4 linked regions of the Homo sapiens genome follow. The protein of the gene in region 1 interacts with the protein of each later gene in a pairwise test. Each region holds a gene or a part of one and is shown on either strand. Other genes may lie near its edges. The genes, in order: MID2, UTP25, EPN2 and AXIN1.

Region 1 (7,026 bases):
ATTGAATGTCTAAAACAAAAATACAAAGCCTTGAATTTATCCCTAGTACATTTTATCTGGTTAGTTCTGCCACTTCATTTCAGCATGCTAAAATCCTTTGGGATACAGATTCTACCTTCAAATATACTTGCTTACCCTCACAGCCTGCCTTCTATTTCTTCCTCTAGTTATTGATAGAAAATTTTGTTAGAACAAGGACAAGGGCAGAGGCCTGAAGCAAAATTTTGGATGGCAATGAGAAACTATTTTACTAGGAATAAGTATTTTTGAAGATTCAGGATCCCAATCCTACCTGCCGGTCTGGCCTGCCACAGTTGACTGAACCTCCGTTCTGAGAGCTACTTTCCTTTGACGTTTTTTCACATTTTCTTTATCCAGAAATTTCATGCTTGTTGGTGAGGATTATTCCCCCTTCACCTTTTCTTTCAACTTTATTTCCTGATTTTTAACTTTCTTCCCACCTCTTCTAAGATTTGAAATGATCACAACCAATGATGTTTCAGATTATGCTGTGAGGTGAATGAGAATTCCAACAGATATTTGAGTGTGTTTGTCTTCTGATTACTTTATTATCTTTCCTCCGTTTGAATTTTGTGTTTTGCATTACAAAAGCATTAGCCGTAAACTCTGCCTAGCCAGGCGGACCATAACATACTACCAGAAAGACATAACTTCTATTTCCCTTCCTTTTCATTCTCATGCAAATACTCTCTACCACACATTTACACTCAGGTTCAGGGATTTCCATATTGTAATTTTTCCCTTTTGAACAAGAGGTATACTTCCACTGACATAATTCAATCATAAGTCCCATCTTACTAAATCTCAGTAATACCTAGAGGATCATATATTTACCTTTTTAAATTTAGAAATGATTTCAAAATCACAGAAAACTTTCCAAGACTAGCACAAAGAACACCCATATATTCTTTACCCAAATTCACCTACTGTTAATATTTGTCCCATTTCCTTTAGCATTTGCTAACATTCCCTGTTCTTTTGGAACCATTTTAGAGCAAATTGCATACATCATGGTCTTTCACCTCTGAATTCTTCAGTGTATATTTCCTAAGAATAAGGAAATTCTCTTACATAACCACAGTATAGTTACCAACTTGAAGAAATTTAACGTTGATGCAATACTTTTATCTAACCACCATTTATATTTCAATTTTTGACATTTGACCAAATAATATTCTTTATGACATATAAAGAACCCAATATTGTCCTTTATAGTTTAGGGTCAGGTATTACATTTAATTGTCGTATCTCTTTTGCCATATCTCTTTTAATCTGGAACATTTCTTCAGCCTTTCTTTGTCTTGAACAACATTGACATTTTTTAAAAAGTGTTCTTTTATGTCTTTATTATACTTCATTATACTGTTCCTTATTTTGATTTTTTCTGAAGTTTTCTCATGATTATATTTAGCAGTACAGTTCTTTCTTAGGGTATAATATCTGGAGACACATGATGTCCACTTGCCCTTCACTGATGATGCTAATTTTGATCACCTAGTCAAGATGTCGTCTGATTTATTCACTGTAGTTGCTACTTTTTCTTTTGCCACTAATAAGGAATCTGTGTGGTATGTTTTAAAACCATAAAAATACCCTGCTGCTTCATCAAACCATCTCATCCCTACCCCCACCCTTGTTTTATTATCAGTTGATGATACTTGCCTGAATCAATCATTAATATGATGATTGCAAAATGATGATTTTTCCAGTTGAGTATTCCCTCCCACATTTTCAAGTTGGCACTTGGCATTCTACTATAAGCAAGAGTTCCACTCCCCATTTCCTCCCATTTGTTTATATATCAGTATGGGCTGATGAATTATCTTTTTTCAATTGTTAATAATTATTTACAGCCCTTACTTGTGTTGGTGTTCAAATTGTCAAGATTTAGCCATTGGGAGCCTTTCAAGGTGATTTCTGGGTCCTTATAATATTCCCCCATCATTTTCTTGAGCACTTCCTTACTTTCTGGCATAACAAAATGTTCTAGGCTCATTTTGACCTTATTCTGTCCCAGCCTTGAAATCAGTCATTATTTTCCAAGAAACCCTGGTTTCTTTTAGTGGGACAATATTAGAGACCAAGACCTGAGTGCTAGATATGCTAGATATAAACACAAATATCCATACATGTAAGCATATGCACACATATATAATAACACATGCATACATACTTTATATATGTGCATATTTATGTGCACATACACAAACATATATATATTTTAGAAATCATGAGTTTACACCAATACCTTAAATTCCAGTCCATCCCCACAGGTTCCTTCCTGCCTTTCTCCATTCTGTATTTGTATGTTCCTTCTTCCACAGTATGAACCCTGGCTCCCAACATCAACACATGTACTCATTTGCTCAATCCCATAATACATCTAAAATAGTTTCTGAATTGCTCTGTCCACGCCACAACAAAAACAAACTGGCTAACAATACTTCAGGATTTGTTTGAGGTTTTCCTCCCACCCCCACTACATTGATGTAATTATGCTGTTCGTCTGAAATGCAGTTGGGTTTGTTTCAGTTTGCCTTCAGCTTTAGTCCCCAATTTTCCCATCTGTATTCATTTAATTTTATTTTTTTGAATTTGTAAAACAATGTGTTTCCCAAAGAGGATGCTATACAAAAAGGTACATTCAGAGAAATGTCATTTCCTCCCACATCCTTTTAATCCTGTTCCTCCACCCCCTACCCCTTGTGGATAACCAACTTCATGAATTTTTTATTTATCTTTCCTGTTTTTATTGTTGTTGCTTTGTAAATCCAAGCAAATATATGGATGTTTTCTTATTTTTCTTTCTCTCAAAAAAGTAGTGTACTGCATATATACTACATATACATATATACTTTTGGAATTTGCTTTTTTCAATTGACAATATTTCCTTGAAATCACTCTATATCAGTTCATAGTGATCTTTTCCTCATTTTTTTCACAGCTGCATAGTACTTCATTGTGAAGTTTGTCTTTGTATTGTTGGGTGTGTATCTGGAGATTATATGTTTTCCTCTTTGTATTAAAATCTTATGTGCAGCTTGTGATTCATACTGTGTATTGGTAACATAGGCAAGGCCTCAAACATTGCTCCTACCCTTTTAATCCATATTGTCTTTTCATTAGAATCACTGGGCACCTCCACCAATTCTTCCTCCTCTTTCTCCTGCATATCTGTTTGCCCTCCATCGTTTCTTTTACTAGTTTTAACTTAGGCTCTTCAACTTCCTCTCAGATTAATTATAAGCCCTTTGATCAGATCTCTTGCAAAACATTCATGACTTATTATTTTCAATTTTCAACCTCACTAAATTTTGTACTAGAGTTGCATAGAAATGACTGAATTCACTGCTTATATTCCTCGCCTTTCCCTTTCTACCCTCTAGTAGAACTGTGGCTAAAAAGTGGTAAACTAACTGAAAAGCAGATAACAGTAGAAAGAAGTCTAAATAATCTGCAGACTAGAATGTTGGTTTTTCTTTTACCGAAAGCTTGCCAAATACATGTTTTAATTATTTACATTTCCCCTGTTTAAGTTAATATTTGCAGTCTAAAATATATCAAAAGCAGAAGCCTAGTTCTCTGATCCCTTTCCCTACTTGGAAGGGAGGAAGATTCCAGATAACAATGTGCTCCTGGACCACTCAACCCAAAATGAACATGGGAATCACACAACAGAATGTGTTGTGTAATAGTGGGGAGATGATATCTTGCTTTGGTTATCATGTCATCTCTTTGGCTTCCCTACGGTACTGTGGAGACCGGCTAGTTTGGGAAGTAAGGGTAAGGATGGAGTAGGAGAGTGGAATTGTAAGCCCTGAGAGCCTCACTACCTTGCAGAGACAAAAGAACATTGTTGTTCACCCCATGAACTGTGATGTAGTAGAGAGAACACTGGGCTACCATTTTAAAAATACCAGGGTTCTATTCTCAGCACCATCACTGACTATCTGTGGCCTTGGGCAGGTCACTTTTCTTCTCTCAATCCTAGTTTCCCATTTGTAAAATAAGGGAAATACAGTATCTATGTGTCCCTTTGGCTGAGTTTCCATGTTTCCCTGCTCTGCACAGGATTGCTCCATCCATACAAGACCAAACTCAGCTCTCAGAGGAGTGGACGTTTGGAGTAAATATCCAGAGACTCCATAAGAGTGATGATTCCGTGACTCTGTATAGTAGCCATTCCTGTGTTATCTGGGAAAGAAATTGAAATAACCTAACTTATGCTAGTAGTTCCATTCAATTGCCACAAGCAAGGAGCCTGGCCTAAGCCTAGTTCTATGGGAGTAATGAAATAGTGGAATCATAAGCCCTGGTTCATCTCATTACATCTTCTAAGACTCAAAAGAAAACAAAATGAATTCACTTTTGAGGGGGTGGCTTATGATGAATTTTCAGTGTGTTTTTCATTCTGTCTCTCTTACCTGCTGGTTAATGTCCTTGTCTTTCCCCATGTTACAGGCCTGTATAATTCAGTAGACAGCTGGATGATTGTTCCCAACATTAAACAGAACCATTACACAGTGCATGGACTCCAGAGCGGGACTCGCTACATCTTCATCGTTAAAGCCATAAACCAAGCCGGCAGCCGGAACAGTGAACCTACCCGACTAAAAACAAACAGTACGTTGTGGTGATTTCAAAAGGAAAGATCAATTTTCTTCTCCATGCCAGGGGAGTACACAGCCTGAGCAGGCACTCACAGCAGTGCATGGGGAGCAGTGGTACTGGGTAGAGGAGCTATACTGTTGTAGTTTGTACTTTGGGCAAGGAGTTTGTTGGTGCCCATGGGAGATTTGTGGACTCAGAGATATGCACAAAAAGACTGTTAGCTTGGGAGGATGTTAGTGAAGAGTTTTCTCTGTACTCCACCCCTTATATTTGGGGGACAATTGCATAAAAGAGCATTATTTGTGATAATCTAGTAAAATCTTACTACAGAGAAGCCATATCTGTTAGGAATGCTTTTGACAGCAAATAACAAAAAGTGCAACTAACATAGCTTAACAAATAGCGTTTGTTAATTGTTTAAATGAATAGTATATATTTTATCTCTCACACATACACATAGGAAGAAGTTTGAAGGTAGGCAGTTCAGGGCTAATGCAGCTGCTCTGCGATGTCATAAAAGATGCAGGCTCCTTCTCCCTGTGTGCATTGGCTTCTTGCCACATGGCTGCAAGATGGCCACTGCAACTTTCAGATGTCATATTACCTCTCAAGATAGGAAAGAGGAAAGAGTTGGTACACATAATGGTTATCCCTTTTATCTGGAAATCCAAAACTTTCCTAGAACTTTCCCCTGCTCTGTCTGACTTCTGCTTCCATCTGCTTCCATGTTCTTAGCCGCCCCTAGCAGTAAGGGAGGCTGGAAGATTGAGTATTTAGCTTTTCCGGCCTCTATAGTGAAAGTGAGTAAGAGAGAAAAAGTTGGGAAAGGGTAATGTGTTAGCCAACAGTGTCTGTCACAGAAGCATTCTGTATAAAAATCTCTTGCCACACCCAGCAACTGGTCCCTCAGTAACAATGCCTTTGTCATATGGTTATAAAGAATTATCTGTTGTGAATGATCCTACACAATAAATGTTTTCTCTGATCATTGATGATGCAACAGTCACTCTAACAAAATTGCCTAATTATATGTTATTTACATCCCAATTGTAAGAGGGCAAAAATAATTGTTCAGTTGCTGAGTTCTCAGGGTTTTCCGGTTCTGCCATCAAGCAGCAATTACATCAATTCCCCTCACCTCAGACATCATAACACTCTTTCTGTTAAAATCTACCCAAATCCCAAACAACCCACTGAAATTAAGCAAAGTACAAAACATATTTGAGAACATGAAACTTTGAGCACTCCCTTTTACTTTGATAATATATGATGTGGGGGACAGCTTATTAGCTCCTCTTTGCTTGGAATATGACTTCCCTCAAATTGCTTTTAGGAGAGATCCACATTTTTTCCCACAGTGGGAAAATAAACGCCGTTATGAAGGTCGTTTTATGGGAGATTGGCCTTTATTCTTATTTTATTGAAAACTCTGGTTTCTGGCCTGTTTTCTTAATAAAATTTAAACAGCAGCCAACTTGCACTGGACCAAGAGTGATCATGTTATCGAGCATACCCTGCCAGTGATGATGCTGGTGGAAAAGGTAGAATTTTAAGATACTTCATAGTGCTTTTTCTTTTTTTTTTTTCTACTTATTTTTCAGGCCAACCCTTTAAATTGGATCCCAAAATGACTCACAAGAAGTTGAAGATCTCCAATGATGGATTGCAGATGGAGAAGGATGAAAGCTCTCTAAAGAAGAGCCACACCCCAGAGAGGTTTAGTGGCACAGGGTGCTATGGGGCAGCAGGAAATATATTCATTGACAGTGGCTGCCACTATTGGGAGGTGGTCATGGGTTCCTCAACATGGTGAGTGGATCCCATTTTCCTTTTCTTTTCTGTCCTCTGTCATTAGGTTCCTAGGAGATTCAATTCTATAGCACAACCATAATACCAATAAGTCAAGGTTAAAAGGTATGTGATGAAAACCACTCCTAGAAAAATTTGCCAGCTTTTTAATAAAATAATGGAAAATATACTGGGCTAGGAGATGGAAACTGCCACATTGCTCTAATTGCTAACTTTTTAAAGCTCTAGTGATATCAGCATTATGCATCTAAGTGTAAACTATTTAAGGAATAAACATATATCCTATTTGTTATATATCATATATGGTGTCTTACACAACTCAGATAATTCATAAATGTTTATTTCTCTCTCCTTTCCACTGTCTCACAGGTATGCAATTGGCATTGCCTACAAATCAGCTCCAAAGAATGAATGGATTGGCAAGAATGCCTCCTCATGGGTCTTCTCTCGCTGCAATAGTAACTTCGTGGTGAGACACAACAACAAGGAAATGCTGGTGGATGTGCCCCCACACCTGAAGCGTCTGGGTGTCCTCCTGGATTATGACAACAATATGCTGTCTTTCTATGACCCAGCTAACTCTCT
Region 2 (7,026 bases), on another chromosome or scaffold:
GTTTGACTAAGAAATCTCTAAAGGCCACATTAGTATCAAATTTCTAGAATCCTATTAAACTCAATGAGAAAATTCTAAAAAGATGAGGCTTCTTCAATACGGAGAGATGCAGTTCAGGGCAGGGGGACAAGTCCTGGTTCTATAACATCATGAATAATGTAGATAAAATTGAAAGCCATTTCCTGTTAAGGCCTCAAATCCACTAGAGCTTAGACTTATGAATACAAACGCATCACTTTAAGCAGCAATAACTTTACAGTGGCAAATGTAAATTTTTGCTTTCAAAGGCTGACGTATGTATGTGGCTTAGTGAAGAGAATCTATGGTTCTTGTCTCATCTCTGCTATTCTTTCCCTGGTTCTCTTTAGCAAGGCCCTCTATGAATTTCTACGAATTTGGGGTTGTCCACAGCTGTAATATGGAGGGATTGGATAAAAGGCTCATTAAGGTCCCATCCAGCTTTGACAACCACAAAGAAGAGATTTATAATGGAGTTTTATTTATATACTCTGGGTTTATCTTTAAGGAAAGTGTCATGAAGTGCCTCCTTCTCGCAAGTTTCCAGCTACATCCACTGTCAGAAACAGCCCACTAAGCTGCTGCAGTGCTGCTCTGACACTACCTGGCCTACTTAATATGCTCACATTTGGGCTCATTCATTATGCCAGTCAATTATTAAAATACCCAAGTTCCTGCTAAGTGTCAGGCACCTCTATGGCAGTGCCTTGCAGCCACCTCCTCGAGAGCAAAGCTTTCCTGCTGGACTCACCTTGGGCCTTGTTAACCCTTGGTCTCTGAAGTCATCATCATCACCCACTCCAAACTTCTGGCTTCGGCGTCTGCTATTGTTGCCAAGCACCTGGGCATTGGCTTTGAGGATGTGATTTATCACATGCAGGCAATACACATGGCGGATCTCTTCCCCGTTCTTCAGAGCAGTCCTTTCCGGGTAGAACAGGTCCCGGTAAGAATTCATAATTAAGAAGAGTTCTTTCTGGAGGGGGGTGAATGGGCTGCTTGATTTTTGGGGACCAGATAGGAACTGGCTGTTGGTCTTAGTCCAGGTGGATTCCAGAGGCTTCTGGAGATGAAGTGACTTTAAGTCAATATCCTTTGGGGGTTTAAATGTTTCCAACTTCTGAAACTTAGAGGAAAAGAAAAGCTGGCCCAGAATAGGCCACTAGGGGAGAAACAGATCAAGAGCCAAATTAGAAATGAATAACAGTAAATTACATTCACATAGTACTATATTTAGCGAATTTTTTCATGATTTATAGATCATCTCATTTAATCCTCACAACAGCCCTGCAAGGTAGTTACCATGATACTCATGTTATAGTTTAGGAAGCACTGAGGTTCATACAGAGGTTGTATGATACAAAGTTTACACAGAAGAAAATGGAGCTGAGGGCTAGACCCCAAGGTTTCTGACTTCAAATCTGAGCTCTTCACCCTATCAGTTGTCCCACACTGTTCTGTGGAATATATTCTGGGAAGAGTCAACATTCATTCTAGAAACAAAGGGGTTCCATGGTCAAATACCCTTGATAAACATCACAAAACTTAATTCCTCTGAGGGAGATTGACAATGTACACTCGATACTAAAGGTGTTGACAAGTTCTATGACAAGAAATCTGTCCATTTTGTTTAAATCCTAAGGAATACTATTTTCTATTTTGTGGGATACAAGTTTAAGAATTTTTGCATTATAGCTAAATTGCTGATCTAAAAATAGGACAACCTCAGCAATAAAAAGAAATAAATTACTGATAGCTGAAATAACTTGGATGACTCTCCAGGGAATCATGCTGAGTGAAAAAAAAACAATCTCAAAAGGTTACATGCTGTATGAGTCATTTAACATTTTTAAAATGACAAAATTATAGAAATGGAGACCAGATTAGTGGTTACCAGGGGTTAGAAATGGGGGTGGGGCAGGGTGCAGAGGGAGGCAGATATGGTTATAAAAGGGCAACAAGGATTTGTATTTTGCTGGAAATGTTCTGCATCTTGATGGCAGGAGTAGATACAGGAACCTATGCATGATAAAATTGTATATAAATATAGGCACAGGCATATGCAGTTGAACAGGAGTAAAACCAGATCTGAGTAAGACTGGTAGATTATATCAATGTCAGTTTCCTGGCTGTGACATTATACTACAGTTCTACAAGATTTCACCACTGAGGAAAACTGGGCAAAGGGTACAAGATGTCTTTGTATGATTTCTTACAACTGCATGTATATCTATAATTATTCCCTCAATAAAAATTTCAATTAAAAAAAGGATGACCAACTCTCATGAATGGCATCAGTGGTAAGAACAAAGAAGCAAAAACTGCCCAATATCTGGATAATTTATTTGTGGACCTACCTCAGATATTTCAAACAAATGAACAACAGTAGTACCTACTGTTTTAATGAACACTGTTTTACTGAACACTATGTATTAGTAAACTATTCTATTTTGAGATAGGTATTATTATCCCCCTCTAGCAGACTAGAATAGTGAATAGCAAAAAAGCAGATGAACTTGCCTTGGGTCAAAATGTGATAGCTCCTTGAAGATGTTGGTCTCCAAATCCACTCTTACCCATCATTATATTATCTGGCACCCACACTCCAGCTTCCTGGTGCGTTTTCTAGCTACAACTGTGCCCCACTAGGCTCTTCTAGCCTTCCTTATGCCCTGCTTCCCTATCAAGCCATCTACTGCAGGTGTATATCATACATTCTGGGAGGCCACTAAAACCCAAGACCACTGTTTTATTTAGAGCTTTCTCTATTTGTGACCGGGATGACCAAGCAACACTTACTTTAAGCTCGTGGGTAGTTTTGGGATTTGTGGCAACAGCCTGAATTGCTTTTTCTTTCAGTTCTTTGTTCACATGTTGAAGAAATGGATCTAATTCAGAAATAAAAAATGTCAGCACACTATGCAACTACAGAGGGGTTTTGTGGTCTTCCCCTGTGAAAGACATGTTGATCTTCATTGTGTTAACTCATCCTTTTCTCCATTGACTTTCCCCACCCTCTGGCCAAGTCCAGAGCTTAAAAACTTCTGAAAGGTTCATTTTCCTAAAACATTTCTCTAATTATATTACTTCCCAGCTTGAAAACTTTTGAAGAAACTTCTCAGCCTGGAATTCAGAGCACTTTAGGATATACCTCCAACCTGCATCTCCGTTATCATTTCTGGACTATATGGCCCTCAAATTCTTCTGCCTCTGTGCTTTTCCTTCCTTCAACTAAAAATTCCAGCCTCTCCTTCACTTCATTTTTGCATATCCAAATGTTATCAATTTAATGTTACCCACTGAATCACAATAAATACTTCCCAGGCTTACTGTGTTAGGCACAACGTTGGCTCACCTTGTTCCCTAGAGTCATCACTTTCTCAAGTCTCCTACTCTGCCCAACCCACCCATTCCAACACATATACATATATACATGTCTTATCTAGCAGACTGCAAGGTCTCTAAGAACAGGTTCCATGTCTGATTGATCTTGCACTGGGACACACAGATATGACCAATACTCCACTGAATTGAACAAATGATCCACATGATAGCATCTGCACTCCAAGTAATCTTTAGTATTCTGAGCTAGCCACCCAACCTTCTCTCCCAGTCCCACTCATAAGAAACAGAACAAAGTTAAATGACCCATCCAAGCATCCAAACAGTAAAATTTCAAATGAAATGCATCTTGTATTAAATATCTAAGAGTGAACAACAGGACATAAGAATTCTAGATGCTAATATATCTGTATGAGCAAAACAACCACAGAAATTATGGGACAGTCAAGCTTCCTAATGTTTCCTCCAAAGTTTCTAAGTTTTAATGGTTCAGAATGGAGTTTGTACTAAAATCTACAAATTCTACCTGTCACTTCTTCTCCTGCAAAATAACCAACAGAACTAAATGAGTCAAATGAGGATTAAAATTTCTGTTTCATTAAAGGTAAAGCTGGGTTGAAGAATGGCAATGAGATCAATGAAGGCAATCAGGATACAGAACGAGACCAACCTGACTTGCCCACCCAGACACTGGCTGAGAAACTGGACTTGAGACAGCAGGAACCCATCAAAGCCCGCCATAGGCACGTCTTGACCACGTGACTGCCATTTGGTCACAGGAGTGGTCAAGAGTCTGTGGGAGGCAGGAGACACAGGGTAGGGCTTTTTGGCTTTTGAGGGTCTCCCTGGTAATAAAGACCACTCAGATTAGCCACCCCTGGGTCTTGCAAATCTGAAAAATTACTGCTCCAAAAAGGAACAGCAAGTGAGGGGTAGAGGAAGTATTTTTTCCTCTTTTTCTTTCTCTTTCCCTACTTGGGGAGAAAATCAGAAATCTTCCCCTGACTCCAATAATGAAAATGTGAGGCCTGGGAAGCTGGCCTTCCCTACCATCATTCTTGTTTGTTCTCCTAAATGTCCCGTCCAACCCCTAAACACTGAGAAACACAAAATACCTTTTAGAATTATTTTTCCCAGCTCTAGATCTAGCCACTAAACTGTTTTTATTGCTGTTTGTTCCAATAATAGATTCAATGTGTATTAGTACACAAATTCCATACTAAGCACCTGGTGAATTCAAATAACACACACTGTGCTATGACCTTGAGAGGCTTTCAAAGAAGAGTTGTCTCCACTTTCCTCTTCCAGAAAATTGGTTTCCAGGCTGAACAGTGACTCGTGTTTTGCATCTGTGAACTCTTCGGGGGATGTTTGTGATGTGCCCGGTGGCTCTTCCCCATCTTCTTTTCCCTCAGGGTCAGCAGATAAAGCTACATCTGCAGTTTTGAGAAACATTTTATAAAATTATTTACTCACAAATTATACTTCTGTTGACAAAATTTATTTCCTTAGGCTATACCAACAATAGCGTTCATTGATACTATTTATATTTAGGTAAATTCAGGTAGAAAACATAGATTTCAAAATTAAGCCTAATCATCAACACATGATGCATGATGGTGGGTTTTATGTCTCAATTTGGCTGGGACACAGTGCCCAGATATCTGGCCAAACATTATTTTGGATGTTTCTGCGAGGGTATTTTTGGATGAGCGTTTATTTATTTATTTATATATTGAGACAGGGTCTGGCTCTGTCACCCAGGCTGCAGTGCAGTGGTGTCATCTTGGCTCACTGCAACCTCCACCTCTTGGGCTCAAGTGATTTTTCCACCTCAGGCTCCCGAGTAGCTGAAACTACAGGCATGCACCACCATGCCTGGCTAATTTTTGTATTTTTCTGTAGAGATGGGGTTTCGCCATGTTGGCCAGGCTGGTCTCAAACTCCTAAGCTCAATCGATCTGCCTGCCTCAGCCTCCCAAAGTGTTGGGATTACAGGCGTGAGCCAGATCTCTTTCTCATATACACACATATCCTACCGGTTCTGTTTCTCTGGAGATTTCGAATTAATATACCCACTTCTAGTTCTAGGAACTTATTCTAAAATAGTAACCAGACATAGTACACTAAGATGTACATGAGAGGATGTTCAAAGCAGCACTGATTATAAGAAATAACTGGGGGAAAAAGGGTCTATCAATGGGGTACAATCATATTTTTACAATGGAATACTATGTAATTAAGAAGCTAATGTGAATCCACAGTCACAGATGTAGGAAGTTACGGAAATGTATAAGGCCATTATACAGATACACATAAATATATATACATACTCATATATAATCATAAAAATGTAGTCTGAAAGGTTATATACAATGCTAAAGGTGTTTATCTCTGGGTAGCAGGGATAGAGGGTAACTATATTACCCTCTTAAATGTTTACAGTAAATATATATTATTTTTATAATGATAAAAAAATTTTCATTTTTAAAAATCCAAAAAAGCAAAGAAAAATAGAAACAAACAAAACAAACTCCTAAGTGTAAGTCAATGAATTTTTATCTCAGTAAAACTGATCAGTTAAAATACCTGGAATGATATATAATACCAGAAGGTATAAAAAAAAAATAAGGCTATAAGAAAAATAGGCATTAAAATAATGAGTAAAAAGTCACCCAGCTATATTCAGACAATGGAATGCTATTCCAGCAACTAAAAAGTAGTAAGTGACTAATACATGCACAACACAAATAAATTAGAAAAACATGAGAAGCAAAAATAGCTAGACACAAAAGGAGTCATACTGTATGATTCAATTTATATGAATTTCTAGAACAGGCAAAACTAATCTACAGTGACAGAAGGCGGGTCAGTGGCTGCCTGATGCCAAGGGTGGGGAACTGACTGCAAAAGGATAAGAAAAATTTTTGGAGGTAATGGAAATGTTCTGTATCTTGATTTGGATGTATACCTTTGTCAAAACCTGTCAGACTGTATATTTAAATTGGATACGTTTTACTGTATGTAAATGATACCTCAATGAAGGTGATTTTGAAGTTAAAGAAAAAAGTCACCTTCAAGTCTGAGTGACACAGAGTCCCTGAAGCCTTCCCTAATTTACACTGGCAGTGTTCAACCACTCTGCCTCTCTTCAACACCTTACATCTAGCTGTTCCATGCAATCGCAAATCTACTGTTTGAAATTTTTTATATATATTTATGTCTATCTTCCATCAAACTTGGTCTCCCTAAGAGAAGAACAGTAACCTCTTCAATAAATTCAGACAGTCACAAAGACAGAACTGTGTTCTCCTTCCTCTGTATTAGGAGGTCTTTCACTAGTACTGATGAAGTCCCTGAAATTACAAGCAAAAATGTTATTTCTGCCTAGCTGTGCTAAGAAGGTTCTGTGTTTCCATCAGATTCTCAAAGATACAATCAAACCCAACAAGGGTAAATCCCTATTTTGGATTCATGTCCTTTCATCCAACTCACACAGTATATAAGGTACCATGCTCATGAGATGAACTGTCTATAGTTCTGGCAAAGATGATGAGCCTATAGTAAAGACACTTACTCTCTGGACTTTCAGTAGACTCTGCAGCCATCTCTTCTTCCACACTGACATCGCTACCACCATCTTCATCGTTCATTTCTGCATCATCT
Region 3 (7,026 bases), on another chromosome or scaffold:
AGAGAGAGGGCTCCAGCCAGCCAAGGTCTTCTGAATCAGCAGGCTATAAGCCCTCCTCAGACCAGGTGGCTGCTTTGTGTGTCTGGAACAGAGGAGGAAGCGCCCCACTGACCTGGCAGGCTCCAATCTCCCTCCTTTCAACCCTGAGCATTTCCTCCCAAGGCCACTTGGCCAAGTTGCTCCTAGTGCTGCTTGGAAAAAACTGGTAATGATGGGGCTCACTACAAATGGTGGCTTTCAAAACAGTGTTTCTTTCATCCAGAGGGCACAGCTAACACTGTTAGGGGAAGGGACTCCAATCTTTCTAATTTATGAATGAGTCTCAGGATGGAGGGGTGACCCTGAAAATTTGCACTATTGGATTTAACTAGATGCTAAACAATAAATCCAATACCACACTCTTGCTCTGAGGCTACGCTGATGGAATGTGGAAGCAGAGGGTGTGCTAACACGCTTCAGTGAATGCAGGAGCTAGCAGAGGGCCATTCTCCTGCAGAGCTGGTCAACACCACCACTGAGAAAAGAATCTCAGAATTAAAAGAAATCACTGTGATTTTAATGTATTTTTCTATTGAAAGCAGAGTGCCAGAACTGCAAAAACACCCCTATGAACATCACTAGGCTGCTTAGTAAATGATGGTACAGCGTGGTATTGTTTAGAATTTCTAATGATGCCTAGAAATGCTCATGACACTACAAATTGAAATATACACATACATACACACGTAATTATATATACAATATAGCTTCAACTGAGTAAAAACATAATGCCCAGAAAAAAGACAGGAAGCAGACAAGCTAACATTTTAACAGTGGCTATCTCTCCATATTGGAATTTGTGGTGACTTTTCCAGGACATGCCAGGGCCACAGAAGGGCCTTGCAGCAGTCCAGGATGGTGTGACAACTACAGGACATGGTGCCATAAGCACTGAGCCTGTCCCAAACCTATTAACAATGTCTATGGGCTTTGGTGGCCTATCTCCTCCCCAAGTCACTGGTAATAATGCCAAGTGCATCAGAACCAAGAAGGTCCTAGGCTGGGCAAGTGGCAAGAGATGGCCAACTGGCAGTCAACAAGCCACATGTGCCCATCCTCAGATAGCTTTTAATTAGCTCAAACCATATTCTTAATTTTTAAAATTCACAGCCAACATTTAAACACTAGATTTCAAAAATCCAGGTTTCTATCTTCTCTTTAAAAAACTGGATTCATAATAGCCAAAATGTGAAAACAGCCCAAATATCCATCAATTGCTGAATGGTTAAACGAAGTGTTGTATATCCATGCAATGGAATATTATTCATCCACAGAAAGTCATGAAGGACTGACACACGCTATAACATTGATGAACCTTGAAAACATGATGCTAAACAAAATAAGCCAGGCACAAAAGTCCACACAGTGCATGACTCCGTTTCTATGAAATGTCCAGAGAGGCAAATCCCTGGAGATAGAAAGCACATACTGGTTGCCAGGGCCTGGGTATGCGGTTTCTTTCTGGGGTGATGGAAATGTTCTGGAATTAGATATCTGATGGTGGCTGCACAACATTGTGAATGTGCTGAAAACCAGTGAAGTGTCCGCTTTAAAATGGTTGAAATGGGCCAGGAGCGGTGCCTCATGCCTGTAATCCCAACACTTTGGGAGGCCGAGGCAAGCGGATCACTTAAGGTCAGGAGTTTGAGACCAGCCCAGCCAACATGGTGAAACCCCGTCTCTACTAAAAATAAAAAACTAGTTGGTGTGGTGGCACAAGCCTGTAATCCCAGCTACTCAGGAGGATGAAGCAGGAGAATTGCTTGAACCTGGGAGGCGAAGGTTGCAATGAGCTAAGATGGTGCCACTGCACTCCAGCCTGGGCAATAGTGAGACTGTCTCAAAAAAAAGAAAAAAAAAAGTTGAAATGGTGAATTTTATCTCAAGTTCTTAAAATTTGGGAGGGCAGATTCACATGGGCAGCATTCCTAGGTGAAGCAGCAGCCCATCAAGCCCACCAAGTTGCCCCCATTCATCAGGGGAGACTCCTCCGCTCACACCCCCTGGACTCCTGTACCGAGTCTCACCCCAGGGTGCTCTCAACATGGTATTGCTATTACGCTATGTTCCTAGAGGGTCAGGTCAGGTCCTTGGCTCGGCCCAGAACACTGGGTCCAGGGCACAGCCCTGTTCACCAGCCAAAGGAGGGGCTGGGCATAACTTGGTCATTTAAAGATATTTTGAGATTTTTGTCTCTCCTGACTGGGAAAAACTTACCCCTGGTAAACAAGCCAAACAATATAAAAAGGTAAAGTGTTAAAACTAAGTCTCCTTCCCACCACTCTGATCCCCAATTCCCTCCCCAGAATTTAACTCTATTAAACCCACCTGGCTCCTGGTGTGACCACTTTCTTTACAGGGCACTAAGACAACTATCCGACAGTTTAATGAACAGTCTTTCCTGAAAACATCCTAACCATAACTTATGGTGGCCATCACTTTACAGACTAATCATTCTTCAGATTTAAAAATAAAGCCAAAGCCACTGTCTAAAAGGGTCTGCCAGCCCTGGGGCACCACAGTCCCCATGTGTGGTGAGTAAAACCATACCACAGGCTCCCTGGGGGTACCACACACAAGTGACAAACCTTGTGAACCAACCTCTTGAGCAGCCCTGGAACTGGCCTTCAGTCAATGAAAGCTGTGGGCAATTTTGCCTGGGGCTTTTCCCAAGGCCCAGAGGGCTCCTGCCAAAGGGGGTATAAGGCCCTGCCTGGGTTACAGAGGCCACCATCAAGCTATTGGAACTCACCAGATGCTAAAGGGCATCGGGGGCTGACAGTGTCTTCTGGACCAAGTCCAAGCACTTGGTAAGGCTGAGTGCAGGCCCTGAGTGATCTGGGCCCTTCTCCCCTGCTTCCCAGTTCACACCAGCTGGTTGCATCTGCACCCACTCCACCACTCCGTACCCCTCTGCTTCTCACACGCTGAGTCTTCTGCAGGGAACTCCCTGCCTCTTGGTGCCTGGACACCTTCTTTTCCCTGGGGACTCAACGGAAGTGGCCTTCCTCCAAAATGCTTACCTCACACTCCTGGACTCCTGTACTGAGTCTCATCTCATCCCAGGATGCTCTCAAATAACCTCCATCGAGTCCTGGACTACACAGTACTGCTATTACGCTGTGTTCCTGCCCTGCCCGCTCCTGAGCAGGGCCTTGACAACAGACAACAGGGACAATAATCACCTGTTGTCTCAGGGGTCATGCACAGCAGAACACAGCCTGTCACTTGGTACATTTTAGCAAACATCTAGGGAACCGAGTTAAACACAAGAGACGGTTCTGAGAGAAACAGAGACTCCAGGAGATACAGGCAAGATGCCACAAGATATACAAAGTTCCCAAACAGCCCACAGGTCAGCCACGCCCAGTAGGGTTTAGCACACCAGGAGGGGCCTCCCAGGGCACCAGGCCAGGAAGCCTTCATAAAGCCTGCTGGGCCATGCTCCTGCCCAGTGATTAAGAAACTCGTGGGCCCAAGATCATCACCCAAATCAAACCAGTTGTGTCATGCTCACATTTTGAACTTCCCACCACAATTCCTCTTACATCTCACATTAAGCAAAACTTTAAAATATTCATTTAGCCTATTAAACGGATTTTCTATTGCTTTAAGTAACAAGCAGAATTATAGCAAATGTATCCCCTTTTCATCAGCAGTGGTGGTAAGCACATCATAATTTCCATCTAATTACAGCAGCTTGATTTGGATGTTCCATGCTGTGTATTTTGGTTCCTTCAGCTGGGACGCTGGGTGTAACGCTGAGGCTGCAAGAGTTGAAACATGTCCCAGAGAAGGCACAAGCCATTTCTGATGCAAATGGGAGGTTGAGGGGAGGTTGACTTTCCTTCTCCCAAAGCAGAAAACCACTCAAAACAAAGAGGGAACACCATGCCACCATCCTCAAGGAGGAGGGCAAGGGCCAGTTGGATATCACTGCTGAGGGCTGGAGGAGCCTGGACACCCACCACAATCGACCAGACCCAAGTGGGTGAGAGACAGCAAGAAGCACTGCCCTGCCCCTCACCCATCCAGCAGGCAAGCACGGGAGACCAGTAATGGGGTCTTTACCAAACGATGGCCAGGGGTCTGAAGTACTCGCAGGAGCCGCTGGCCCGCCCCAGGGGTTGGTCTGGTTAGTGGAGGCTGACGGGCCCCAGGGCTCTGCTTTCTGGGCCGCGGGGCCCGAGCTGGGGAGAGCATCCATTAAATCCAACAGCGTAGTCTGCTGTGGGAGAGAGCCATGCTTTTAAGACAAAGAGAAGGGGACAGGTTTTACTATGCTACAGTTACAGCAAATACTCATGAACTAGCCATAAATATCACCCACCTGTGCCTCTTCCTCCAGTGAAGCCCTCTAGGAGGGGCTGAGAAGAACTTGGAAACTGAGCCGTCCCATCTCCCTCCCCGTCCAGCCAGCTCTCCAGTCACAACAAGCTATTTACTGTTTGCTAAACCCCCTCACCAGACTTCAGAGACCTCAGGGCTCAACAGACTTTTCCAGGCTAACACTGGCTTCTGCCCAGGCTGTGGACCTCCTCCAGAACGCCATCCCTCCCACCTGCCAGCCACCATCCAGGGCCAGCCTGAGGGCCCTCCTCCTCGGGCACCTGCATGCTCCCCACTCTCAAGACCACCCCATGTGTCATCAGGGATCATCAACATCAACCAGTCAGGAGCCAGGGGCTCCACCGGCCTCAGTAGCACTGTAACAGAGGAGGCCAATGGAGCCCCGGGGCCTGTGGTGTAGAAGGGGTCTGGGTCTTGACTGGATGATGATGAGCTTGTCAAGAGCCCAGCCATGTCCTGGTCATCTCTACATCACAGCAGGAAGCCTGGCACAGGGCTGAAGAGGCAACCAGCACTTCTGGGGGCACACCCTGCTGCAGGAAAGCGTTCCGCAGCCCCTGGCATGTAGCTCACTTGACAGCTGCCGTAGCCACAGCGGCAGGAGGCAGGCACTATCATCACCTCCATTTTACAAACGAGCAGACTGAGGCACTGGGACATTAAGTGTCTCCTGGTTAGTTCAGGTGTGTTTTCAGTCGCTTGCTCACCTGGCTCTCGCTCACTACAGGCATGAAGGTTATTTGCTGAGGTTGGAGAACTCACTGTGCATCACGCCATCCAGGCAAGTTGGTGGGGGGATATTGAGGCAACAACTACAGGACAGGGTGAAACATCTACCCTCCCAGCAAGCTCTTACCTCTTTCTTTTTTGGAATTTTAACTGTGTCCCTTCGGCTTTCTTCCAGGGCCATCTGTAATCTGAGGTCATCACCCCGCCTGAGGCGTTCTTCCTGTAGAGGGACAATGCAAACTGGTAATTGTAATAACATCACTGTACAGAACAAAGCCACACTGGCCAGAAACAGGAAATGCACATTGTATGATGCAGTATTTCAAAGGAAGATTTCAAAACTACTTGTAAAACACAATTACTTTCAAATCCCAAATGTGTGTGTACCCAGAAGGCCCCTCCCTCATGGCGACTCCTGTGACTTGGACCCCTGTGGGGTCACACCAGGGAGACTATGGCTCAGGTACCACCAAACTGGGGAAAGGGAATGCTTAATCTAAAATATTTTTTTCTCAAAATGAAACTGGCTTTATAAATTCTACTTATAGAAGCAATGTGTGTCCTTATAAAACACAAATCTGACAACCCAAAAAGGAATTAGAAAGAAGATAAAAATCACGTATCATTCCACCTCCACTGTGTATGCTTCCGGAAAATGGCTGCATATTTCTATGATTCCTAACAGAAATGATTCACTATCTTTATTTAAGGCAAAGTCACCATATGCAAAAGACAGGGTTGTCCTAAGCTTTTATATAATATAATAATTAAATATAAATAATATATTCCTTGTATTTTTTCTTTTCTTGTTTTTAAGAGATAGGGTCTCATGGTATTACCCAGGCTGCTACACAGTAGCTATTCACAGGGACAATGCCACTACTGATCAGCACGGGAGTTTGAACTTGCTCCCTTATATTTTATTATAAATATTAACTAAAATGGGCTCAAACCGTCCGTCTGTCCCTATGTTTCTCAGTGGATGCTACCACGCACCTTCTTCCTGGGCTGCTGGCCATGAAGCCACATGCATCCACCTGGGCAGTTACTGGTGGCCTGTTTCCCACTGCAGGGACAGAGAGGCCACAACTGAGATTGCCCACTGTCACTGAGCTTTAGAATGTTGCCAGTTATAGACACACAAACAATGCCGGGATGAACTTGTCAGTACTCAAATCTAACTATCCCCAGTATTCCTCTCTGAACACCAACTTCTAATAGAGGAGAGGAATCCCTGTGCTGCCCCTGGTCCCATCTACCTTTTTTAACCAAAGGTCATTGGAGACAGCCCTGATAACTGCAACCAAAGGCTTGACAATTTGTAAGGCCACTCTAATTGCTCCTTTCCCTTCTCGCTGTTGTAAAGTAATGCATGCTTACTAAAGAAAAATGGGGGCCAGGCACGGTGGCCCAAGACTGTACTCTCAGCACTTTGGGAGGCCGAGGTGGGCAGATCACTTGAGGTCAGAAGTTTGAGACCAGCCCGACCAACATGGTGAAACCCTGTCTCTACTAAAAATACAAAAATTAGCCGGGCATGGTGGCACGCGCCTGAAATCCCAGCTACTCGGGACGCTGAGGCACGAGAATCACTTGAACCCAGGACGCGGAGGTCTCAGGGAGCCAAGATTGCACCACTGCACTCCAGCCTGGGTGACAGAGTGAGACTCTGATTCAAAAAAAAAAAAAAAAAAAAAAAAGAAAGAAGGAGAAAGAGAGAAAGAAAAGAAAAGAGAAAAGAAAAGAAAAATGGGAACTGAAAAAAACTAAAACTATACATACTTCCATCATCAAAACACAAGCACTCTCATTTCGGGAGCATTTTTTCCCAGCCTTTGTTTTTTGCAAATCTCTTGCTACAGGTCAAAGTGCTTGGCGGGGGCTGGGCTGGCTCCTGCCCCTCAGGCC
Region 4 (7,026 bases), on another chromosome or scaffold:
CGAAGACCTTGGGGAACAAGAGAACAAGTTGTGACTGTGGCCGACACCCTGGCCAGGTGGCCTGGTGGGGCTACACTCATCTCACAAGGGCAGCCTCCTTGAGGGATAGGATGGGATGGGGCACTGGGGCCTGGCCACCAAGCCACATGGACGTCCTCCACAGACCACACAATAAAAACATCCCGGCCAGGCATGGTGGCTCACACCTGTAATCCCAGCATTTCGGGAGGCCGAGGCGGGCAGATCACCAGAGGTCGGGAGTTCGAGATCAACCTAACATGGTGAAACCTCATCGCTACTAAATATACAAAATTAGCTGGGCGCCTGTCATCCCTGCTACTCTGGAGGCTGGGGCCCGAGAATGGCTGGAACTGGGGAAGTGGAGGTTACAGTGAGCCGGGATCACGCCACCGCACTCCAGCCTGGGTGACAGAGTGAGGCTCAGTCTCAGGAATAAAAAAGACAACAAAAAACCAACCCTCATTTGCCTGTAATCCCAATACTCTGGGAGGCCAAGGTGGGTGGATCGCCTGAGGTCAGGAGTTCAAGAACAGCCTGGCCAACATGGCAAAACCATGACTCTACTCAAAAAATACAAAAAATTACCCAAGTGTGGTGGTGGATACCAGTAATTCTAGTTACTCGGGAGGCTGAGGCAGGAGAATCGCTTGAACCTGGGAGGCAGAGGTTGCGGTGAGCTGAGATTGCACCACTGCACTCCAGCCTAGGCAAGAGTGAGACTCCATCTCAAAAAAAAAAAAAAAAAAAAAAAATGGCCAGGCGCGGTAATCCCAGCACGCTGGGAGGCCGAGGCGGGTGGATCATCTGAGGTCAGGAGTTCAAGACCAGCCTGGCCAACATGGTGAAACCCTGTTTCTACAAAAATACAAAAAGTTAACTGGGCATAATAGTGGGTGCCTGTAATCCCAGCTACTCAGGTGGGTTAGACAGGAGAACCACTTGAACCTGGGAGGTGGAGGTTGCAGTGCGTTGACACTGGCCTGTTGCACTCCAGCCTGAGCCACAGGAGCGAAACCCCATCTCAAAAAAAAAAAAAAAAAAAAAAAAAGGCCAGGCGCGGTGGCTCACGCCTGTAATCCCAGCACTTTGGGAGGCTGAGGAGGGCGGATCACGAGGTCAAGAGATCGAGACCGTCCTGGCTAACACGGTGAAACCCCACCTCTACTAAAAAAATACAAAAAATTAGCCGGGCGTGGTGGCGGGCGCCTGCAGTCCCAGCTGCTCTTGAGGCTGAGGCAGGAGAATGGCATGAACCCGGGAGGCGAGGCTTGCAGTGAGCTGAGATCAGGCCACTGCACTCCAGCCTGGGCAACAGAGCAAGACTCCGTCTCAAAAAAAAAAAAAAAAAATTCTTTCATGGAGACTTTTTTTTTTTCTTTTTTTGAGACAGAGTTTTGCTCTTGTTGCCCAGGCTGCAGTGCAATGGCTCGACCTCGGATCTCGGCTCACTGCAATCTCCGCCTCCCAGGTTCAAGCGACTCTCCTGCCTCAGCCACCGAGTAGCTGGGATTACTGGCACTCGCCACCACACACGGCTAATTTTTTGTATTTTTTTTAGTAGAGATGGAGTTTTTGTCATGTTGGCCAGTCTGGTCTCGAACTCCGGACCTCAAGCGATCCACCTGCCTCGGCCTCCCAAAGTGCTGGGATGAGGCTTCTTTTTTTACATTTTATTTTTAACAGCTTTACTGGGATACAAATTATATACTAATCCTAGAGGCCGGCGGATAGCTTTGAGTCCAGGAGGCTGAGACTGCAGTGAACGGTGTGATTACACCACTGCACTTCAGCCAGGGTGACAGAGGGAGACTCTGTCGCAAAAAATTAAAAAAAAAGTCTTAATGAATAAAAAGTATAAGTATGTCTCAAAGTGGAATGTATTAATACTTATCCTAAAATATGGGACATGCAATATTTAGTATATACAGCTATTTAAAAAAAGGATTCGGCCGGGCACGGTGGCTCACGCCTGTAATCCTAGCACTCCAGGAGGCCGAGGCAGGCGGATCACCAAAGGTTGGGAGTTCGAGATCAGCCTAACATGGCAACCACCCCCTGCCCCGGTCTCTACTAAAAATACAAAAATCAGCCGGGCGTGGTGGCTCACGCCTGTAATCCCAGCTACTCGGGAGGCTGAGGCAGGAGAATTGCTTGAACCCAGGAGGTGGAGGTTGCAGTTAGCCAAGATTGCACCACTGCACTCCAGCCCGGGCGACAGAGCTAGACTCCGTCTCAAAAAAAAAGACTCGAAGGCCAGGAATGGTGGCTCATGCCTGTAGTCCCAGCATTTTGGGAGGCCAAGGTGGGAGGATCACTTGAGCCCAAAAGCTTGAGACCCAGCTGGGCAACACACTGAGACCCCCTCTACAAAAAATGAGCCAGGCAAGGTGCTGTGCACCCCTGTTCCCTCGGGAGCCCCAGAAAAACGATGAGCCCGTCCCCACCTCAGTCAGCACCGATGGGGACCCCAAGGCCTTGCGGGACAGGCTTCCAACACAGGCAGGAGGGCCACGCCCCAGGCGCTCAGCTGCCTCACAAGTTCTCATCAAGTAATGTGGAGGGAGATGCGTCCTGGCCAGGGCCTGGGTGAGGGTGGGGGGCAGATCAGGACCTAAGTCTGAGGAAGCTGGGGCCATCCACCCACCAGGGCCAACACTTCCCAGCTGACCTGCCTCTGACCACGACAGGAAGGTGGGGGGTACCACCTCTGTGGGGCCCCTGGCCCTCCTGCTGGGTTCCGGGCACGAGTGCAGGCCCAGGGGGCGAGCAGGAGCAACACCAAGACCGGCCCGGCGGGCAGCGGCAGGGGCTGGACCTGTGGCGCCGGGGCCTTGCTCCACACCACACACGAGGCCTCTGCCCTTCTGGGAGGAGAGAAGTGCTCACGCTACACAAGAGCCTTCCCCAGCCCTCAGCAGGACGGCCAGGTGTGAGCACAGAAGGCTCCTCCGTGGGCACCTCGGGAGTGATGGTCAGTGGGGGCCTTCCCAGGTGACTTAGGTCATTCTCATGTGGGGGTCAGACTGGAAATGACCTCCCGAGAGCATCTGTGCTGCCTGCGGGGTGACAGCCACGTCAGCTTCCCTCCTGCTCGGGGCTTCAGGGACAGCCTCTCTCTGGGGACATGAGGTTTTCCTCCTGGAGACGTGGGGCCCAGGGAGCCTGCTGGAGGGTGCCCGGGAGGGTGCCACAGTGACAGGGGAAGTGTGAGGCGTCACAGGCGACACTCGCCACACACACTGAAGCTGCACACACTGAGACTGTGCGGAGGCCAGGGGTGGCAAAGCAGGCCCCACGAGGCTGGCTGCGTGCGGGGTGCTCACCCGTGGCCGGTCCTGCGGTGCCTGCTGATCTCCTTTTCCCCCTCAATGATCCACTGCATGATTTTCTGGTTCTTCTCCGCATCCTCCGAGGCACCTGGCACCTCGGTGCTGGCGCTCTTCCCCGACTCAGCCTTCTTGGCATTTCTTTTGCACGCCACGCCCACCTTCCCACTGCAAGGGCAAGAGCTGCGAGTCGCCCTGGCCTCCGGTGGCCGAGGCTGTGCCCCTTCCTCGTCTGCGAGGCCCCCTCCTGGCATCTGTAAGGCTCCCGTGGTGCAGCCGCCGCCCGCTGTCCCCTGCCCGCTTGTCCCCCACCCGCTGTCCCCCGCCAGCTTGTCCCCCACCCGCTGTCCCCTGCCCGCTGTCCTGGTGCTGTCTGGGGGTTGGTTTCCTCTCTAAACACACAGGCAGTCACTGCTCACCCCCTGAAGACTGAGGGCCAGAGCGGGAGCCAGGGTCGGGCTGTGTCCCCTAACCTTCATCTCCCACCTGAGGTCACGGCGTGGACTCCCCTGACCCAGGGCCCAGTCCACTCCCTCCAGCAGAGGGGCCTCCTGCCTGTTGCTGGCGGTCCTGGGTTTCCTGAGTTTTATGAGGAGGTTCTGGCCTTCTGCAGGGACACAGCCTCACCCCAAGCCCCCTCCTCACTGACAGGCGCACGCTCACCTGTGGGCGAGGCCATCACTGGCGTTGGGGGCAGCGCCAACACTCTCTGAGTAGCCTCGGGACCTTGCCCCATGGCTGTGTGGTTCCAGGCCCCAGGCGAAGCTGCTCTGGGCCCTGCGGGTGGCCTCGGCCTCCACCTGCTCCTTGGGCCGGGCTGTGCTGTGGTGGACGTGGTGGTGGACGTGTCGGTGGTGGTGCAGGCCGGCCGCGTCCAGCTTCGCCCCTGACTTGGGTACGTGCTTCCCGTGCCCCGAGGCGGCACCCCCCAGTGCCACTGGCATCTTGGCCACGTGCCCACTGTCCGGGGAGCGATGGCCAGGCCCAGGCGACTGGCGGCCAGGTGTCCTCAGCACACGCTGTACGTGCTCGTCCAGGATGCTCTCAGGGTTCTCCTCGTGTGCATCCCGGAGCCCGGCACAGCCCATGTCCACACAGCGGGGCGGGAAGTGGTGCCAAGCGGGGGCGGGAGGCAGCTTGTGACACGGCCCTGGGGGCCCTGACGATGGATCGCCGTCCTCACCTTCCTCCTCCTGTGTGGGGACAAGCAGCACCATCACCTCTCAGCACCAGCTGCACACTTGGGGAAAACAAAAAGCATCAGGCCTGACCCAGCAGCCCCAGCAGATGCCGTCCCAGCCCAGGGTGGCCGGGGGCCCCTCGCCACCGGTCCTGTCCCTGAGGATGGAGAGGCAGGACGGGGCATAGACAGAAGGAGCGGAGACAGCAAGGCCTCAAGGAATGCAGCGTATGTATCGGCTGTGGGCAGAGCTCTGCACAGATTTAGTTTAGTTTTATTCTTTTTTTGAGACAAGTTCTTGCTCTGTTGCCCAGGCTGGAGAACAGTGGTGTGATCTCAGCTCACTGCAGCCTCCGCCTCCTAGGCTCAAGCGATCCTCCCACCTCAGCCTCCAGAATAGCGGAGACCACAGCCGTGTGCCACCACGCCCAGCTAATTTTTTTGTACTTTGGGGACAGATGCGATTCTCACCATATTGGCCAGGCTGGTCTCGAATGCCTGAGCTCAAGCAATCTGCCTGCCTTGGCCTGTATATATATATATTTTTTGAGACAGAGTCTTGCTCTGTTACCCAGGCTGGAGTGCAATGGTGCCATCTCGGCTCCCTGCAACCTCTGCCTCCTGGGTTCAAGTGATTCTCCTCCTTCAGCCTCCCAAGTAGCTGAGACTACAGGTGTGCGCCACCACACCCAGCTAATTTTTGTATTTTTAGTAGAGACAGGATTTCACTATGTTGGCCAGGCTGGTCTCGAACTCCTGACCTCATGATCCACCCACCTCGGCCTCCCAAAGTGTTGGGATGACAGGCATGAGCCGCCGCGCCCGGCCTCCCATTATATTTTAAGGAGAACCTTGTACAGAACGGCTCTTGGGTTATGTACATGTTGTGATGCTGCCTGACGAGCTTCCACATGAAGCCGGTGGAGTTTCACTTGATTCTCCAAGTTAACAGGTGCTGAAGCTTATCTGTCAGAGCAAACATTTGATCACTTTAATTCCAAGTTGCATCTCATACTTATTTTCTCATCTTATTGGACTGACAAACTAAAACAGTATTGAGTAAATCTGGTGTCAATACAAAAGAAAGAGAGGGAACTAAGTTACCATGTATCTATGTATGTATTTATTTATTTAGAGTCAGAGTCGCTCTGTCAGCCAGGCTGGAGTGCAGTGGCACGATCTTGGCTCACTGCAACCTCCACCTCCCGGGCTCAAGCAATCCTCCTGCCTCAGCCTACCGAGTAGCTGGGATTATAGGAGTGTGCCACCATGCCTGCCTAATTTTTTTGTATTTTTAGTAGAGACGGGGTTTCACCATGTTGGCCAGGCTGGTCTCAAACTCCTAACCTCAGGTAATCCACCACCCTCGGCCTCCCAAAGTGCTGGGATTACAGGAGTGAGCCACCACAACCGGCCTATTTATTTTCATTTTTTTGAGACAGAGTCTCGCTCTGTCACCCAGGCTGGAGTGCAGTGGCACGATCTCGGCTCACTGCAACCTCCGTCTCCCGGGTTCACACCATTCTCCTGCCTCAGCCTGCCCAGTAGCTGGGACTACAGGTGCCCGCCACCACGCCCGGCTAATTTTTTATATTTTTAGTAGAGATGGAGTTTCACCGTGTTAGCCAGGATGGTCTCGATCTCCCGACCTCGTGATCTGCCCACCTCGGCCTCCCAAAGTGCTGGGATTACAAGTGTGAGCCACCGTGCCCGGCCTATTTTTATTTATTTAATTTTTTTTTGAGACGGAGTTTCACTCTTGTGTCCCAGGCTGTAGTGCAATCTCCGCCTCCCGGGTTCAAGTAATTCTCCTGCCTCAGCCTCCCGGGTAGCTGGGATTACAGGCACCCACCACCATGCCCAGCTAAATTTTTTGTATTTTTAGTAGAGACTGGGTTTCACCCTGTTTGCCAGGCTGGTCTCGAACTCCTGACCTCAGGTGATCCACCCACCTTGGCCTCCCAAAGTGCTAGGATTACAGGTGTGAGCCACCACACCTAATCGCAGTGGTGCCATCACAGCTCAAGGCAGCCTCAACCTCCAGGGGTCAAGCGATCCTCCTGCTTCAGCCTGCCAAGTAGCTGGGACTACAGGTGCATGCCACCATGTCCCATTAATTTTTTCTTTTTCTTTTTTTTTTGTAGAGATGGGGAATCTCACTATGTTGTCCAACCTGCTCTTAAATTCCTGGCCTCAAGTGATCCTTCTGTCTTGGCCTCTCAAAGTGTTGGGATTACAGATGTGAGCCACTGTGCCCCACCTACCTCTATATTTTAATATAAACAAACCTCCCAACGTTTAGCACCCAACTCTCACACCTGCAAAAGTATCCAAATGCAACTGGAACAGGCGTGCCCCAGAGCTGGTGTGGGCTTGGCTGCGGGCACCTGCACTGGGGCTGAGGGTGAAATATGGCACTAAAGAGGACAGACGGATGCTGGAGCAGAGCCGGGGGACAGGTGGGTGGTGGGCATCCCCTGGCGGATGCAGCTATGCTGC

Evidence for each region.
Region 2: the proteins of MID2 (region 1) and UTP25 interact in binary tests that used the Homo sapiens proteins (3 or more experiments, as listed by UniProt).
Region 3: the proteins of MID2 (region 1) and EPN2 interact in binary tests that used the Homo sapiens proteins (3 or more experiments, as listed by UniProt).
Region 4: the proteins of MID2 (region 1) and AXIN1 interact in binary tests that used the Homo sapiens proteins (3 or more experiments, as listed by UniProt).

Annotation. Positions count from the first base shown.
Region 1 is NC_000023.11:107,919,861-107,926,886, forward strand, and holds part of MID2 (probable E3 ubiquitin-protein ligase MID2), read left to right. Parts: intron 1-4,482; coding exon 4,483-4,644; intron 4,645-6,233; coding exon 6,234-6,441; intron 6,442-6,810; coding exon 6,811-7,026. UniProt on the Homo sapiens protein: E3 ubiquitin ligase that plays a role in microtubule stabilization. Mediates the 'Lys-48'-linked polyubiquitination of LRRK2 to drive its localization to microtubules and its proteasomal degradation in neurons.
Region 2 is NC_000001.11:209,830,955-209,837,980, reverse strand, and holds part of UTP25 (U3 small nucleolar RNA-associated protein 25 homolog), read right to left. Parts: coding exon 6,938-7,026; intron 4,797-6,937; coding exon 4,623-4,796; intron 2,907-4,622; coding exon 2,818-2,906; intron 1,181-2,817; coding exon 770-1,180; intron 1-769. UniProt on the Homo sapiens protein: Component of the ribosomal small subunit processome for the biogenesis of ribosomes, functions in pre-ribosomal RNA (pre-rRNA) processing. Essential for embryonic development in part through the regulation of p53 pathway.
Region 3 is NC_000017.11:19,310,364-19,317,389, reverse strand, and holds part of EPN2 (epsin-2), read right to left. Parts: intron 5,339-7,026; coding exon 5,246-5,338; intron 4,286-5,245; coding exon 4,111-4,285; intron 1-4,110. UniProt on the Homo sapiens protein: Plays a role in the formation of clathrin-coated invaginations and endocytosis.
Region 4 is NC_000016.10:293,712-300,737, forward strand, and holds part of AXIN1 (axin-1), read right to left. Parts: intron 5,494-7,026; coding exon of another isoform or gene 5,473-5,493; exon of another isoform or gene 5,300-5,472; intron 4,588-5,299; coding exon of another isoform or gene 4,564-4,587; exon of another isoform or gene 4,549-4,563; intron 4,541-4,548; coding exon 4,011-4,540; intron 3,516-4,010; coding exon 3,345-3,515; intron 8-3,344; coding exon 1-7. UniProt on the Homo sapiens protein: Component of the beta-catenin destruction complex required for regulating CTNNB1 levels through phosphorylation and ubiquitination, and modulating Wnt-signaling.